Linked DNA regions of Homo sapiens: region 2 is linked to region 1. The links come from fine-mapping of genetic effects on gene expression. A gene starts in region 1. The other region holds a variant in brackets. All regions are shown on one strand. Distances are between the middles of the regions.

Region 1 (8,337 bases):
AAAAAAAAAGAAAAAAAAACTGTGTCTCAAAAAAAAAAAAAAAGCGTGTAGCACCTTTCCTTTCTCTATCTTCCTCCTGGTCCACCACGTAAGACATGCCTGTTTCCCCTTTGCTTTCCGTCATGATTGTAAGTTTCCTGAGGCTTCCCCAGCCATCCTTCCTGTACAGGCTATGGAGCTGTGAGCCAATTAAACCTCTTTTCTTTATAAAATACCCAGTCTCAGGTGGTTCTGTATAGCAATGCGAGAACAGAATAACACAGCCATTAATTCAGTAACTGCAAAGTCCCGCCTCAGCTCTGGAAAAGGATTTGGAAAAAGGAACAGAGATAGAGGGAGACAGATTTCTAATGTAAAAGTCATCTCCCTTTCAATATTCATTACCTTAAAGCAGGGACTGATGGTTGAGGGCCAGCGCACAGGGTCCTTGAGAATGAGGCTGACCAGCTGAAAGATGCTTGTAGCATAGAAGGGAGGGGTGCCTACTGCCAGTTCATATAGTATGCAGCCAACAGACCAGAGGTCCGCTGTGTGGTCGTATGGTCGCTCCTCCACCAGCTCTGGAGACATATAGAGTGGTGTGCCTTTGATGGATGTCAGCACCATTGTATTGGTGCTCATAGCCCGGGCAAATCTGCAGAAGATAATGGGATGGAAATGGAAAGGGAAAAGATATTCTAAACCTGGTCACTACTACCTAACATAGAGATATCCCAAACCGGAGCAGAGGGAGCACCTTTGATTAGGTTCCAGAAGACCCAGCAGCAGTCCCAGCCTCTAGCTCCGGTTCTAAAATGAGGCCCAAATAAGTCAAGAGTATGGTCTAAGATTCCCTGTGGGGCCAGGCTCAGTGGCTCATGCCTGTAATCCCAGCACTTTGGGAGGCCGAGGTGGGCAGATCACCTGAGGTCAGGAGTTCGAGACCAGCCTGACCAACATGGAGAAACCCCATCTCTACTAAAAATATAAAATTAGCCAGGCATGGTGGCACATGCCTGTAATCCCAGCTACTCTGGAGGCTGAGGCAGTAGAATTGCTTGAATCCGGGAGGCAGAGGTTGTGGTGAGTGGAGATCGCACCATTGCACTTCAGCCTGGGTAACAAGAGTGAAACTCCATCTCAAAAAAAAAAAAAAAAAAAAAGATTCCGTGTGGAACTGGAAGCTTAGATGGATGCTCAGAATCTTTACCCAAAGTCACAGAGCTTGATGCCACCACCCTTGGCGAGGAGGATGTTCTGAGGCTTCATATCTCGGTGTAGGATGCGGTGGGAATGCAGATAGTACAGGGCTGACACCAACTGGGCAGCAATGGCCTGAACCTAGAAATTAAAGAGGTGGAAGAAAGAAAAAAAAGGTTAGAAACAGCAGCTGGCTGACAAGCCCAAAAATTTCTCTTAATATTACTGCTAATCTTTTCTTCCTTCCCTTTCTTGCAGAGCTTCACACTATTCTTTCTTAGTTATTGTTCCCCTTGTTTAATCACTCTTTCATTTGCTCATTCATTCATTCAAGAAAAATTTATTGAATCTCATTTACTATCTGCTTGACCATGGGCAAACTAAGGTGACAATCTATATAATAACACCATCTACATGGAGGATTATTGTGAGGACTGAGTTAAAGCATGCAAAATAATACTCAGAATGGTGCCTGGCACATAGTAAATATTCAATACACATTACCTGTTATTAAATAAGACAAAATGCCTTTTTTCAAGAAAAGTAGTCAGACAAACAAACAAGACAGATAAAACAAATATGGTGGTCGGGCGTGGTGGCTCACACCTGTAATACCAGCACTTTGGGAGGCTGAGGCGGGCAGATCACCTGAGGCCAGCAGTTCGAGACCAGCCTGGCCAGCATGGTGAAACCCCATCTCTACTAAAAGTACAAAATTAGCTAGGCATGGTGGCGCATGCTATAATCCTGGTTACTGGGGAGGCTGAGGCACGAGAATTGCTTGAACCTGGAAGGCGGAGTTTGCTGTGAGCCAAGATTGTGCCACTGCACTCCAGCCTGGGCAACAAAGCGAGACTCTGTCTCAAAAAATAAAATTCAATTAAAAATAAAATAATTTCAAAAATATGATTACTTACAAATAGTGGTGAGTGCTCAGAAGGAAAGAGAATGCTGCAATAATGAATCCCAGGGGGGGCCTACTTGCTTGGGTACAGACAAACGCCTAGAATAAATGTGGCTGGAGGATATGTGCAACAAAATCCCACTGCTAACCACTACGTCCTGGTGCCAAATCCTGACTCCCCACAACCTTTATTCTTACTGCCCTCTTTCTGGTACCATTACACTGGCCCTTCTTCCCTAAAGGTATCTAATAACAATAATGTTAATAATAGCTAACTATTCAAACACATTACATGACTTAACACTCTTCATCATAGACTTATCAGGCAAACATGATTATTATCTCCATTTTACAAATTAGGAAACTAAGCACAAAGAAATTAAAGTAACTTGTCCAATGAGACCCAGCTAGGAAGGAGCAGAGCCAAGCTTCCTGCTCAGATATTTTGACTCCAACGTTTACATAATTTACTCCCACACTACACTGCCTCTATATACCTAGACTCTTATATTCTTCTCAGAAGTCTTTGAAATGGAGACTCTCAGTGTCCTTAGCTTGCTCTACCAGTTCTCTAACCTGGAGAGAGGTCGGAGGTGGGGAGAAGTTGAAGGCAGAAAGCATACCTGGTCTTCAGGAAGTTTTCCGTCATCTTCTAGGATCTGAAAGAGCTCTCCCTCAGCATAGTCTGTCACCACCACCACCTACAGAGAGAAGGCAGTGGCACTGATGGCTCCAGATTCATGCATTCTGAGGTTGGGAAATTCCTGGAACCCTTGTGCTTGGGGAGACAGGGCCCAAAACTGTCAAAGCACACCTCTTTATCAGTTTCAAAGCTGTCAAGCATATGCACAATGTTGGGATGCCGCAGACCCCGCATTATTTCAATCTCTCGTTGCAAATTCCTCAGCTCCTTCTCTGAGCGCCCCAATTTTGGGATGAACTTCAGGGCCACGACCTGTCAGTGGTAAGGTGAAAAGTTAACGCCTAATCACACTACTGAAAAGATCTAGAATTTCAGCCTTAATCTCAGAGCTCCAGAAGTCAGATTTTAGAGTGTTTGAGTAACTCTTATTATTTCTGTTAGTCTCCCGCTTCCATTTTCTCCATGGTACCCTGGCCTTATCCAGGCTTTCCCCATTCCTCATCCCAGGAGGAAACAGCATCTGCAAAACATTTCCCCTTCTGGAAGAAGTGTTCTGATTTGACCAGCACTCAAGATGAGATTTAGGAGAAAGGAAAGGAAAAAAAAAATGAAGAGGAAATAATAGAGTTCAAGTGGTTTACCTCTTATTACATGGTGTGCTAGAGACTAATAATATTTGTTGTTTACTAACAGCCAGGCACTGTACTAAGTGATTTAATGTGAAAACATATTTAATCCTCAAACTCCATCAATCAGTTGCTGTTCTTATCCCCATTCTAGAGATAAGGAAATTGAGACATAGGGAAGTTAAGTAATTTGTCCATAATTCTAGGGCTAGAAAGCGGTGGAGATGGAATTTGCACCCAAATAATCCAACTTCAAAGCTTATACTCCATAAGAAGTATGAGGGAGTCAGTACCTTAGGAATACAAACTGGTATAAATACATTCCTTCTAGATCCATTTTCCACTGGAGTTGGGGGTACCAAATCCCACCCAAAAGGTATCCCTCTTTGTGCAACACCTGAGCACTGTATTTTCTTCGACCCTTGTACACCCTCCCAAAAGAGCCTTCTCCAATCATCTCCAACACGTGGTACTTTTCCATGACAGAGGTTTCAGGATCTCTTAGAAGGAAGAAAGTAGAGACGGTGAAGAGCTATAGATCCAGGGACAGTTCCACAACATCTGGGACGCCTAGTTGGGGCACGGGAAAGGAAAAATGTTAGCCACCTTGCCTTTTCCTCTTTTTCACAATAAAGCCTCAAAAAACATGGGAGGGTGGAATGCATGCAAAGATGATGCGCTCTTGGAACAAACAGAGCTTCTCTTTGTAGTTCCTCCCCACTTTCATCCTCCTGTCCCCAACCCGGCCCCATGCCCAACTAACACCTGGTTCCCCTTCTCCCTCACCCAGCCTGGCTCACTCGACCCTACTCTTTCAACCTAGCCTCGCCCAACCAACCCTGCTCCTTTGAGTCTCCCCCAAGTTCCTGCCACTCCCAGACTCCTCAGCACCCGCTCTCAGACCCCCTGGCCCGTGCGCTTCGCAGGCCAGAGCCCCTCTCTCACCCCCAGCCTAGGAGCTCCAAGCTCCTCAGGCCAAGGGACGGATTCCCTGGCGTTTAGCCCCATCTCTTCTGGCTGCCTGCATACGTTGCCTGACTTATAATTCTTCTCCACCCGCCTCTCCCTCCGGTCTCTTTCGGCTCCCTTTCTTACAATTTTACTCGCTAGAACTGGTGAGAAGTTCAGAGGACAAAGGCGCTCAGAGGTGTGGAATGGACGGCGGACCACACATGGGCACTTCCTGGGACACATCCGAACTGCCTCAGGGCCATCAGGCCCGGCTAAGGACCCGGAGTCTGCGGTTGCCTAGAAACGACGCTAGCTGCCCACCCCTCTTAGTTTTCCGCCTCCGACTTCCCTAAGGGCATTTCCGGTTCCGGCTGCGGGCCGGTGAAGATATGGCGGCGTCTGCGTCTGCAGCTGCAGGGGAGGAGGACTGGTAACTTTGGGGGCATGGGCTTTGGCTGACAGCCTGGATCTAGTCCAGAGGCCTAGCAGCTGTCGCAGACGGTCCGTACGGCGGGCGTGTGGGGTGGAGCGAGGGATGAGGGATGGCAGAGATGCTGACATCTCTGGGAAAGCTGGACTGGGGAACGGGAGGGTGGAGGGGCGCTGATCTGAGTGAGAGGAGAACGGGTCGGCGCCCGCCAGGCCAGTTCAGGCCTCGCCGCATCCGGTTCGATCCCTTTTCCTCCAGCTTCACGCCATCCCTTTCTCTCCTCCTCAAATGAATTTTCTCAGGGGCTTTGGGGGATGCCTGCCCATCAGACCTCCCCATCTCCCTTTCTCCTCTCAGAACCAGTGCCCTCCAGTTCCGGCCCCCTTTCCCCTTGGATCAGCCTTTTTCCGCCGACGCTTTCCTCAGCCTTCTCTCTCTCACACAGCACTAGTGAGGACTATTGTATGAATAAAGCTTTACACTTCATATAAAGTCCCTCTAGTCCTTCTCTCAAGCATTCTTAACCAAAGACTAGAACATGGAAGGACTCTGGGATTTGGAAGTAGGATCAATGTGGGTTAACTCCACATTTTATTAGCTGTGTGATGCTGAACAGGCCATCTAGCTTCTGTGAGTCAGTGTCCTCAGCTGTAAAAAAAAAAAGTGGGTGTGGCATTTACCTCAGAATAGTTGAGAGGATCACGACGGATTTGTAATATACTTAAGTCTGTTTTTTGTTTTGTTTTGTTTTGTTTTTTGAGACAGAGTCTCACTCTCGCCCACGCTGGAGTGCGGTGGTGCGATTACGGCTCACTGCAGCCTCGACCTCCCCAGGCTCAGGTGATCCTTCTGCCTCAGCCTTCCGAGTAGCTGAGACTACAGGTGTGTGCCACCATGCCTGGCTAATTTTTGTATTTTTTGTAGAGACGGAGTTTTGCCATGTTGGCCAGACTGGTCTTGAACCCCTGGGTTCAAGTGATCCTCCCACCTCAGCCTCCCAAGGTGCTGGAATTACAGGCGTGAGCCACCACACCCGGCCTCCTTTTCATTAATAACTGAGGTGCAGGCACCTGGGAAGACTAGATGAGTCCCAAAGAAGTAAAGTGATTTGCCAAAAGATAGAAAATTATGAATAGAAATCCATATCTGTCTGACTCCACACCTTAGATTCTTTGTACTAGGACATTCTTCAGTCCCCACTCCCCCAATTTTTTTTTTTTTTTTTTTTTTTTTTGAGACGGAGTCTTGCTCTGTCGCCCAGGCTGGAGTGCAGTGGCGCAATCTCGGTTCACTGCAAGCTCCGCCTCCCGGGTTCATGCCATTCTCCTGCCTCAGCCTCCCGAGTAGCTGGGACTACAGGCGCCCGCCACCACACCCAGCTAATTTTTTGTGATTTTTAGTAGAGACGGGGTTTCACCCTGTTAGCCAGGATGGTCTCTATCTCCTGACTTCATGATCCACCCGCCTCAGCCTCCCAAAGTGCTGGGATTACAGGCCTGAGCCACCGCGCCCGGCCCCCCTCCCCCATTTTGTTGTCACCACCTTACCACCATCCCATCCAGGACCCATATAACTAGGGTGGGCGAAGTATTGAAGGGCCACTTGACTGAGGCTACACCTCAATGTTACATTGGTTCAGGGAGCCCAGCTAGTACTGGCCGTTATTAAGAGTATCTAGACTACTGGTTTTCAAAGTGTTCAGGGAAACTTCTTTTTTTTTTTTTTTTTTAAGAGACAGAGTCTTACTTTGTCACCCAGGCTGGAGTACAGTGGCAAGATCATGGCTCACTACAGCCTCGACCTCCTGGGCTCCCGTGATTCTTCTGCCTCAGTCTCCCAAGTAGCTGGGACCACCGTGTCCAGTTAATTTTTTATTTTTTGTAGAGATAGTGTCTCGCTTTGTTGCCCAGGCTGGTCTCGAACTCCTGGCCTCAAGTGATCCTCCCACCTCAGCCTCCCAAAGCGCTGGGATAACTTACAGTTTACCTGTTCAGGGGAACTTTTAAGATTCAGGGGAGACACCTTGAGCCATGGAGACAGCAACAATGAGTGCAGCAGCCTGTAGTACTGTGAGACTCCCACTCCCATGTCAGCCAGAACTACACTGTTATCTGTGAGGTGTGAAGCTTTATATTTTATATTTTGAAGTTTCTGCCTAAGACTTAACAACACTGACATAGGTCGTGCTGGGGCAGCCTTACTCTTAGAATGAAGAGGGAGCAGTGTGAGAAAGCAAAGTGTGCATTTTTCCATGTATCACTTGGTAGAGCTGTAGACACAAACTGATCACTCAGCTTCAATTTCATTACAACTGCTGTTTCTATGCTTAAGTATGTGTGTCCCTTGATTTACATCAGAACCATGGATCCTAACCTCAACAGGCTGATCTAGATCAACCAGACAGCCAGGTCATAAATACATCCAGAGTACTCTATTACCTCCTTCCTTCCCTCTTTCCTTCTAAGGGAGAAGGTTATATACAGACAGGAAAAAAAGAGGACGTAGACTAGCTACGATAGCCCAGATACTATTAGGTACTTTATGTAAACAAATCACCTTTTATCCTCACAATAACCCTAGAGAGTAGGTGTTATTATCTATATGTGACAGACAGGATAACTTAAGCTTACAGAGAGGTCACGTCCCAGATTGCATAGCTTGTAAGTGATTGGTACCTGTTAACTAACTCCGAGGCTGCTGGCTCTTCCATTACAACACAGCCTTTATACCACCCTAAATATGTTGTGTTGAGGTTGCTATCTCCTTTAAGAAGGCTTAGGGTGACTGGTGTTAAAACTGTATGTAGACAGTAGCCAAGGCACTGGGATCCACACTGGACAGTGACGTAGGGAAAGGTTGGAGTAATATTGGTAACGTTAATGCTAATGAATGAGTGCCATATCTCTAGACCAGAGATTCAGCCACTAAGGGGAATGAAACTTAAACAGGGAGTCAGGAAACCTGGCTCTGGGCCTAGTTCTACCTATGTTAAGCCTTGGTTAGTCATTTTACTTCTCTAGAATCCACTTCTTCATCTGTTGGCAGAAATGATGCCTAAAATTCTGATTTCCATGCCTTCTATTTGGCCAGTTGACAACTTAAGGTAACATATTCCTTGTTTTTAAGGAGTTTAGCAGGAGAATGCATTCTGGTAGATTGCCATTTTTCTACAAAGCCTGCCTTTATTGGCCTTAGCAGGCTTCCACAGGGAGAGCTGTAATGGTAAGTTAGTCTACTCCTGTCTCTCTAGGGTCCTTCCCTCTGAAGTTGAAGTATTGGAGTCCATCTATCTAGATGAACTACAGGTGATTAAAGGAAATGGCAGGTATGTATTCAACCAGTGGTGGGCAGGAGTCCCCCTAGTAATGAGGAGAGGTTCTATGCTGAATTTGGGTCTTAAGACATTGTGAGCCTTGATTCAGAGATAATATTTCTCTTGTGTAGACAAAAGCTATTCCTTTAATCCTACCCCAAAAGAAAGAGTCCAATGTGTACTTCCTTTGCCCACTTCACTGTCTCAGCCCCATCCTCCCCAGCCCCCAAGCCCCTACCCAGTCACATCTGCGTGTCCACTTGATCCACCTGCAGAACTTCACCATGGGAG
Region 2 (8,337 bases), 130 kb before region 1:
ACTCTGTCTCTAAATAAATAAATATAAAGTGATTACTATGGGAGGGTCAGGGGAGCAGCGGAGGGGGTCAGACTGCTTAGTGTGTATCATGTTCTATTGTTTGAGTCTTGAACTATGATAATGTATTACCTATTCAAATTTTTAAAGTCTAAAGGTACAAAAAGAAATGTTTTCTGAAACAGTAAGTCACCTGACATTGACCAGATAGTTCTAGAAGGCAGGGAATCCTTGCTGAGCCTCTGAATTCCTGTAAATACTCCTTAGATTTATAAGTGCCCCAGCCATATCATTTTCCTGTGAGTGAGTTTTGTTTTTTTCCTTAAAGGTTGCTTTTTAAAAAATACTTTACATACACATCTATTTTCCTCTATTAAATTCCCTAGGAGGGCCGGGCACAGTGGCTCACGCCTGTAATCCCAGCACTTTGGGAGGCTGAGGTGGGCAAATCACAAGGTCAAGAGTTCGAGACCAACCTGGCCAACATGGTGAAACGCCGTCTCTACTAAAAATACAAAAAATTAGCTGGGCATGTTGGTGGGCGCCTGTAATCCCAGCTACTTGGGAGGCTGAGGCAGGAGAATCGCTTGAACCCGGGAGGAGGAGGAGGTTACAGTGAGCCAAGATCATGCCACTGCACTCCAGCCTGGGTGGCAATGTGAGACTCCATCTCAAAAAAAAAAAAAAAAAAAAAAATTCCCTAGGAGACCTGTCCTAAAAGTAGGCTTAATTTGTTTCCAGTTTAAGACATTAACAATAATAATTGCACGTGTTTCCATAGAGCTGACCATGAACCAGACACTGTTCCAAGAATTTTACTTATATTAGCTCATTCAATCCTCACTACAGCTGTTTGGGGTAGGTTTAATATTACCACAATTTTGCCGATGAGGAAACTGAGGCCCAAAGAAGTTGCTCAAGGTCACTTTATCATTAAGTAGCAGAGTCAGGATTCAAACTCCAAACACCTGGCTGGAGGCCATGCTCTGAACCACTTACTCCACGGATCCCTGAGAAAACAACTATGTCCTTCTAACTGGAAACAAACGTAGGCCCTTGAAAAGCGTGTACTATTTTAAAACCACAATATTATGCAATAACAACCCAGGATTACTCAACTGTGGCACTGTTAATACTCGGAGTGGATAATTCTATGTTGTAGCCGACAGTGGTGTGCGTTGCCGGGTGCCTAGCAGCATTCCTGGCCTCTCCCCACAAGTACCGCACCCCCTCTGAGTTGTGGCTACCACAGATGTCTCTAGACATTTCCAAAATGTCCCCTGGGGGATGAAATCACCATAGATTGAGAACTACTGCAATAAGTCCAGCCTCTTAATATGTCTCCTAATTCTTTAATTTTAGAAGACCTGTTTAAAACAAATATATACCATTTTGAAGAAATATTTTTCTAAAGTTTGGTTTCTTATCCTTCTGTTAAGTTGAAGTAAACTTATGTATAACATTTTAATAAAAATCTGAACAGCAGTTATCTCAATGGTGGTAAACAGTGCTTTACAAATTAACTTACTTTCTTCTCTATACTGTGATTTATTTTTCAAAAATTTTTTGCCACGTTCTTGGAATCAGCAGAAAAAAAGTTATATTTTTAAAGTAGAAAAACAATACCAGCTTCTTTCCTGGAATCCAAAGCCTCTGAGACTACTTCCTGGCTGTCAGTATGGAGGTTTCTGGGACATTTCTCCTTTTAGCTAAGCCATGCCTTCTTCCTTCATGCTCCTCAGTTAGTTTACTTAGTGGAACTTAACAAGGATCTACTTATGTAAGAAGTTATTTTAGAAAGACAGCAGGATACTTGCTGAGAGATGCGTGCTGTGTCTGTGATCCTACCATTAGATCGTAACCTGAGCCAGTTGGAAAGTCCCAGCATTCTCGGATGGGTCCTGTCTAAGAGCCACTTTGCAGAACAAAGATCATCTTTCAGGATGAATGGGAGGGTTAGCCCCCACCTGACAAAACTCCAAAGCAGGAGAATGTTGAATTCATTCAACATTCATTTATGAATCTCATGTCCTGTTCCTCCTAGGGATACAGCAGTAAGCACAGCATAAAAGACCATTCTTAAGGAGTTCTTATCCTAGTGCATGGGCCAGACAGTTGAGAATTTGATTACATATGTTCCTAAACAGTTTTCTAATTATTTTGCGGATGTCTTGTCTCTTCAACTAAATTGAAAATCCTCATGGGTGAAAACCATGTCATACTTCTTTATGACATCCCAAATTGTTGGGCACACTGCTAAGCACATTAATAAGACACTCAGTACATACTTAACAGTTGTCAATGAATCCAGCAGAAAGAAACATGTTGCAGACAATGCAAAGAACATGAGAGAGACAGAGACAGACATAGAAAGGGGGTGGGGAAGAGGATACGTAGGAAACTTGTTAACAGTAGCTCGTCTAGAGTTTTAAGAACCTGGAAGAACAATCTGAAAGGAAATTAAGAAAATAATTCCATTTACAATAACCTCTGTTTTGGACTGAATGTCTGCACTCCCCTCAAATTCTTATGTTGAAACCCTAAACCCCGTGTTGCTGCATTTGTTGATGGGGCCTCTAAGGAAGTAACTAAGGTTAAATGGGGTCATAAGGGTGGGGCCCTGATCTGATAGAATTAGTGTCTTCATAATAGGAGACACCAGAGAGCTTGCCCTCTAGGGCACAGGAAGAAGGCAGCCAACTACAAGCCAGGAAGACAGCCCTCATCAGAAACCAACCACTGGCACCCTGATCTCTCACTTCTAGCCTACAGAACTGTGAGAAAATAAATTTGTTGTTTAAGCCATCCAGTCTGTGGTATTTTGTTATGGCAGCCCAAACAGACTAATGATAGTATCCAAAAGATAAAATACCTAGGAATACTTTTAACCAAGGAGGTGAAACATTTGAACACTGAAAACTACTAGACACTGCTGAAGGAAATTAAAGACCTAAATAAGTGGAAAGTCATCCATGTTCATGGATTAGGAGACTTAATATTGTTAAAACAGCAGTACTCCCCAAGGCAAACTACAAATTCAATGCATTCCCTTTCAAAATTCCATAGCCTTTTTGCAGAAATGGAAAACCTGATCCTAAAATTAATATGGAACTGCAAGGGGCCCTAAATAGCCAAAACAATATTAAAAAAGAAAACAATGTTGGAACATTCCCATTTTCTGATTTCAAAACTTACTGCAAAGCTACAGTAATCAAAACAGTAAGTTACTAGTGTAAGTGTAGACATATAGACCAATGGAATACAACTGAGAATTCAGAAATACACTAGAACATCTACAGTCAACTGATTTTTGACAAGGGTGCACAGACCATTCAATGGGGAAAGAAAGTCTCTTCAACAAATGGTACTGGGACCACTGGATAACTAAATGCAAAAGAATGAAGCTGGACCCCTACCTCACTCCATATACAAAAATTAATTCAAAATGGATCAACAATCTAAAAAGAAGAGCTAAAACTATAAAACTCTGAATAAAATATAAGGGTAAGTCTTCATGACCCTGGATATGTCAATGAATTCTTAGATTTGATAACAAATGCATGAGGAATTTTTTTTAAATAGATAAATAGTTCTTCATAAAAATTAAAAACTTTTGGCCAGGCATGGTGGCTCACACCTGTAATCCCAGCACTTTGGGAGGCCGAGGTGGGCAGATTACCTGAGGTCAGGAATTCAAGACTAGCCTGGCCAACATGGTGAAACCCCATCTCTACTAAAAATACAAAAATTAGGCAGGTGTGGTGGCGCATGCTTGTAGTCCCAGCTACTCGGGAGGCTGAGGCAGGAGAATCACTTGAACCCGGGAGGTGGAGGCTGCAGTGAGCTGAGATTGCACCAATACGCTCCAGCCTGAGCAACAGAGTAAAACTCCCATCTAAAAAAAAAAAAAAAAAAAAAAAAAAAAGACGGGGGCACGGTGGCTCACACCTGTAATCCCAGCACTTTGAGAGGCCGAAGTGGACAGATCACGATGTCAAGAGATCGAGACCATCCTGGCCAACATGGCAAAACCTCTTCTCTATTAAAAATACAAAAATTAGCTGGGTGTGGTGGCGTGTGCCTGTAGTCCCAGCTACCTGGGAGGCTGAAGCAGAAGAATTGCTTGAACCTGGGAGGCAGAGGTTGCAGTGCCAAGATCGCACTACTGCACTCCAGCCTGGCAATAGAACGAGACTCGGTCTCAAAAAAGAAATTTAAAACTTTTGTGCCTCGAAGGACATTATCAAGAATGTGAAAAGACAGCTTA[T/C]AGAACGAGAGAAAATATTTGTAAATCATATATCTGATAAGGGTTTAATATCCAGAGTATACAAAGAACTGTTACAACCCAACAACAAAAAGACAAATTCAGTTTAAAAATAAGCAAAGAATGGCTGGGCGTGGTGGTTCACGCCCATTATACCAGCACTTTGGGAGGCCAAGGCAGGCAGATCACTCGAGTCCAGGAGTTTGAGACCAGCAATTCAAGACCAGCCTGGCCAATATGGCAAAACCCTGTCTCTACTAAAAATACAAAAATTAGCCAGGCGTGATGGCGCACACTTGTAGTCCCAGCTACTTGGGAGGCTGAGGCATGAGAATCACTTTAACCCAAGAGGCAGAGGTTGCGGTGAGCCGAGATCAAACCACTGCACTCCAGCCTGAGTGACAGAATGAGACTCTGCCTCAAAATAAATAAATTAATTAATTAAATAAGCAAAGAACTTGAATAGACATTTCTCCAATGAAGATATGCAAATGGCCTATAATCACAAGAAAAGATGTTCAACATCATTTGTCATTAAGGAAATGCAAACCAAAGCCACTGTTAACCACAAGAAAAGATGTTCAACATCATTTGTCATTAAGGAAATGCAAACCAAAGCCACTGTTAACCACTAGAATGGCTTAAAAAGAGAGAAAAAAAGAAAATAACAGTATCAGTTCCTAGATCCTAGATAAGGGAGCAGAGGCTGGGTTTATTCTTATTTATTTGCCCTCCGAAGAAAACATCGGCTGTCTCTCTTTTCTACAGGAAATGGAGTACTATTTTTCTTCCAGCAACAAACTCGTAGTAAGCAGCCTTCTGGAAGAGTAAACAGAAATGTGAGTGCTTCCTCACTTTTGACAAGCTGCTAGAACAACGTTCCAAAAAGCAGCACAAACTCATGCATCCTGAGAATCAAAGCTCTTTGAATGAGCAAGAAATAGTAAAGACCTTATAGGAAGTAAATAAATAATTAGCAGATGGAAAAAGCATGGAGTAACAACGCAAGTAGTTCTGTTTCTTCACATCTTAACCTAGTCTTTTTTTTTTTTAATTTTCTTTTTAATTCTCAGCAAGGCAAGTTACTTCTATGGAGGGTGCACCCTTACAGATGGAGCAATGGTGAGCGCACACTTGGACAAGGGAGGGGAAGGGGTTCTTATCCGTGACGCACGTGGCCCCTGCTGCTGTGTCGTTCCCCTATTGGCTAGGGCTAGGCCGCACGGGCTAAACTAATTCCGATTGTTCTTAGCCTAGTCTTAAATAAGAGGAAACAAATAAGTGAACAAATGTCATTAAAGCAACTAGTTGATTATTTGGGGAGAAAGTATAGTTAGAACCCACATCCGTGGTCATTGCTGGCCTAAAGAGTGCCTTAAATAGGAATTAAAAAAAAAAAAAAAAGCCTGCTAGCAGCTGCAGCCCCAGCCAAAGCCCAGGGCCTGGCAAGTCAAATGCAGGCTCCATTCCTGCTCCTCATGTGACCCCTTGGTCAGGCACCTGCCTTGTGCACCTCACACCATACACAGAAACTAATCCCAGGTGGGATAAAGATTTTAAAAGAAACTACAAAAATACAAGAAGAAAATATGTATGAATACACAATTCAAAAACTCGTTAGAAAAATAGACATAAAAACAGAAATAGGGAATTTACAAAAAAAGAAATATAAATAGTATATCTATGCAGAAAATAGGTCCAATCTTACAAATAAGAACATGCAGAATATATATCATGAAGATATACCACTTTCAACTATGATATTTGCAGAGACTGTTTTTGCAAATATCATAGTTGAAAATGGTATGTCTTTGTGATATATATTCTGCATGTACTTATTTGCAAAAAATAATTGTTTTTGTTTTTTGGGTTTTTTTTGAGATGGAGTCTCACTCTGTTGCTCAGGCTGGAGTGCAGTGGCACCATGTCAGCTCACTGCAACCTCCACTTCCCAGGTTGAAGCGATTCTCCTGCCTCAGCCTCCTGAGTAGCTGGGATTACAGGTGTGCACCATCATGCCTGGCTAATTTTTTTGTATTTTAATAGAGACAGGGTTTCACCATGTTGGCCAGGCTGGTCTCGAACTCCTGACCTCACGTGATCCACTCACCTCGGCCTCCCAAAGTGCTGATATTACAAACAACGTGAGCCACCACATGTGGCCCTGTTTTTGTTTTTTGGACTGCCCTTTGTCATGCAAAACTATTTTCTTTGTAACTTTTCTGGAAGACAATTTGGCAGGTGCTACATATCAAAGATCCGAACAAAATCCTTTATCACAATGGTTCCATTTTAGGAGTTTTATTCTAAGAAAATAATTGAGAATGTACACAAACATTTAGTGCTAGATAGATTAATGTTAATCAAAGCTTTATACATAAAAAATCTAAAAGTATACCAACAGGGTCCAGTAAATTCTGATGTAGCCATCCAATGAAATGCTTTTCAGCCATTAAAAATTGTTATATAAGTGTGTTTATTGAAAAAGATATTCATATTTACTTTTCTGTAAAATGGCAAGTTACAAAAGAGAGCATATGGTATGCTTTTATTTTAAAAAACATATATATGTAGATGACATATGGGGAAAACAGATAATGCTTTCCCCATATGCTTATAACAACATATGGGTGTATTTATGTATTCATTTCACAAGCGCTTATTAAGAACCTATGGGTATAAGGCATTGTGCTATGTGATGGGTGTTGGGATTATGGAAGATTTAGATTTTCTTCTTTTTGTTTCTTTATATTTTCTCATTTCTCTAAAATATGCATACACTACTTCTGCAAGTTATTTCAATTCTAAATGGCATTTTCTATTAAATGTGGTATATAGCCACAAAATTAGCATGTAATCGTAACTCATATTTATGTGATTTTTTTAAAGGTAATTTTTATAGGAAAAGAAAGTGCTTGTCTCATGGTCATGTGTTTTTATTTATTTGTTTATTTATTTTTATTTTTTTGTGAGCCACCACACAAAATAACACTGGCTGACTTGGAGTGTCTTATCTTTATTTCTTCTACCAGGCTGCGTTACTTTGCCATAGCACCGTTAAGACCTTCCATATAAACAAAGGCTTGGACTCAGCCTTCCCTGAGCCTTGAAGACTGATTGCCCTGTGATCCTCCTGGAACACCGAAGAATGGGAGGCCCCTCCCACTCTTCACTGGCCTCCCCATCTTCCTCAGAGGTGTCCCAAGACAGCTTCTCATCACCTCTCAGGTTCTGAGATATGGACTTTCTGCCTTATTCTCCCTCAGAAAAGAGTCGCAGAACATAAAACCCCTTGGCTGCGGTCTAGCAGGAGTTTCTCAGCAATGGAGGTACCCCACAACTTGCATTGCAGTCATCTGTCTCCTTGTGTTTTGGCAAGATCTTACCCCCGTCAAGATGAACAGGACTAGGGCAGAAACCCAAGTCCCTCCTTCTCTAAGGAGGATCAGAGGCTTTATGCACTGATCAAGGTGTGCTGGGGACTTGATGGCAACCACAGTTGTCGAACCTGTTCAGCCTTTTCCGACACTGGGCACAAGTCATTGGGGCACCGAGAAATACCCATGGTTATGGTCAAAAAATTACTTTAACTGGATTTGGAAGAAACTCTCAGATTGGACAGTGGACTGATGTAATTTTGTGGATATATTAATAAGGATTCTCCAGAAAAAAAAAAGAAACAATAGGATGTATGTATATAGGGAAAGATTTATTTTACAGAATTGGCTCACATGATTATGGAGGTTGGTGTGAGGTTACCCGAGAGAAAGGAAAAATAGACTCAAAGTCAGGCAAGCAAGTTTTTGTTAACCTGCCGGCTGCCCCCTTAACAGTCAGAGAGGAAGCAGCCCCAAACTTACAGAAGGAGGGGTTTATATTGGGGAGGGGAGTTTGAGGCAGTTCTTTGGTATGGCCGCATCCCGAGGTTGTTTGCTGGTTAATTTTGCCACATATCACCGTGTGACGTTTATGGTAGCAGCTAGATGAACAGGAACTTACAGGAGGGTGTAGGTAAAGTTTGTTTATGCTTCCCATGACCTCCCCCTGTGCCGTCTGGATGGTTTGTAATTGGGGTT

What was found. PIP is the estimated chance that this variant, and not a neighbour inherited with it, causes the effect.
Region 2: its variant is the best candidate, but not a certain one, in a credible set for the expression of STK36 in whole blood (TOPMed, PIP 0.72).

What each region holds. Positions count from the first base shown.
Region 1 is chr2:218,668,326-218,676,662 of GRCh38, reverse strand. STK36 (serine/threonine kinase 36) reads right to left here and starts at 4,577. Exons shown (of 27, transcript NM_015690.5): 1 at 4,448-4,577; 2 at 3,750-3,922; 3 at 2,898-3,038; 4 at 2,707-2,784; 5 at 1,190-1,320; 6 at 385-634. The coding sequence starts at 3,833. It overlaps RNF25 (ring finger protein 25), which reads left to right and starts at 4,661. Exons shown (of 10, transcript NM_022453.3): 1 at 4,661-4,733; 2 at 7,984-8,058; 3 at 8,322-8,337. The coding sequence starts at 4,693. RefSeq lists an enhancer at 4,657-4,756.
Region 2 is chr2:218,799,308-218,807,644 of GRCh38, reverse strand. The region is part of intron 1 of CYP27A1 (cytochrome P450 family 27 subfamily A member 1); the gene reads right to left. Among named protein-coding and RNA genes, the nearest start is that of MIR9500, 20 kb to the left of the region's middle. The variant T/C (reference allele first, on the strand shown) is at 4,265.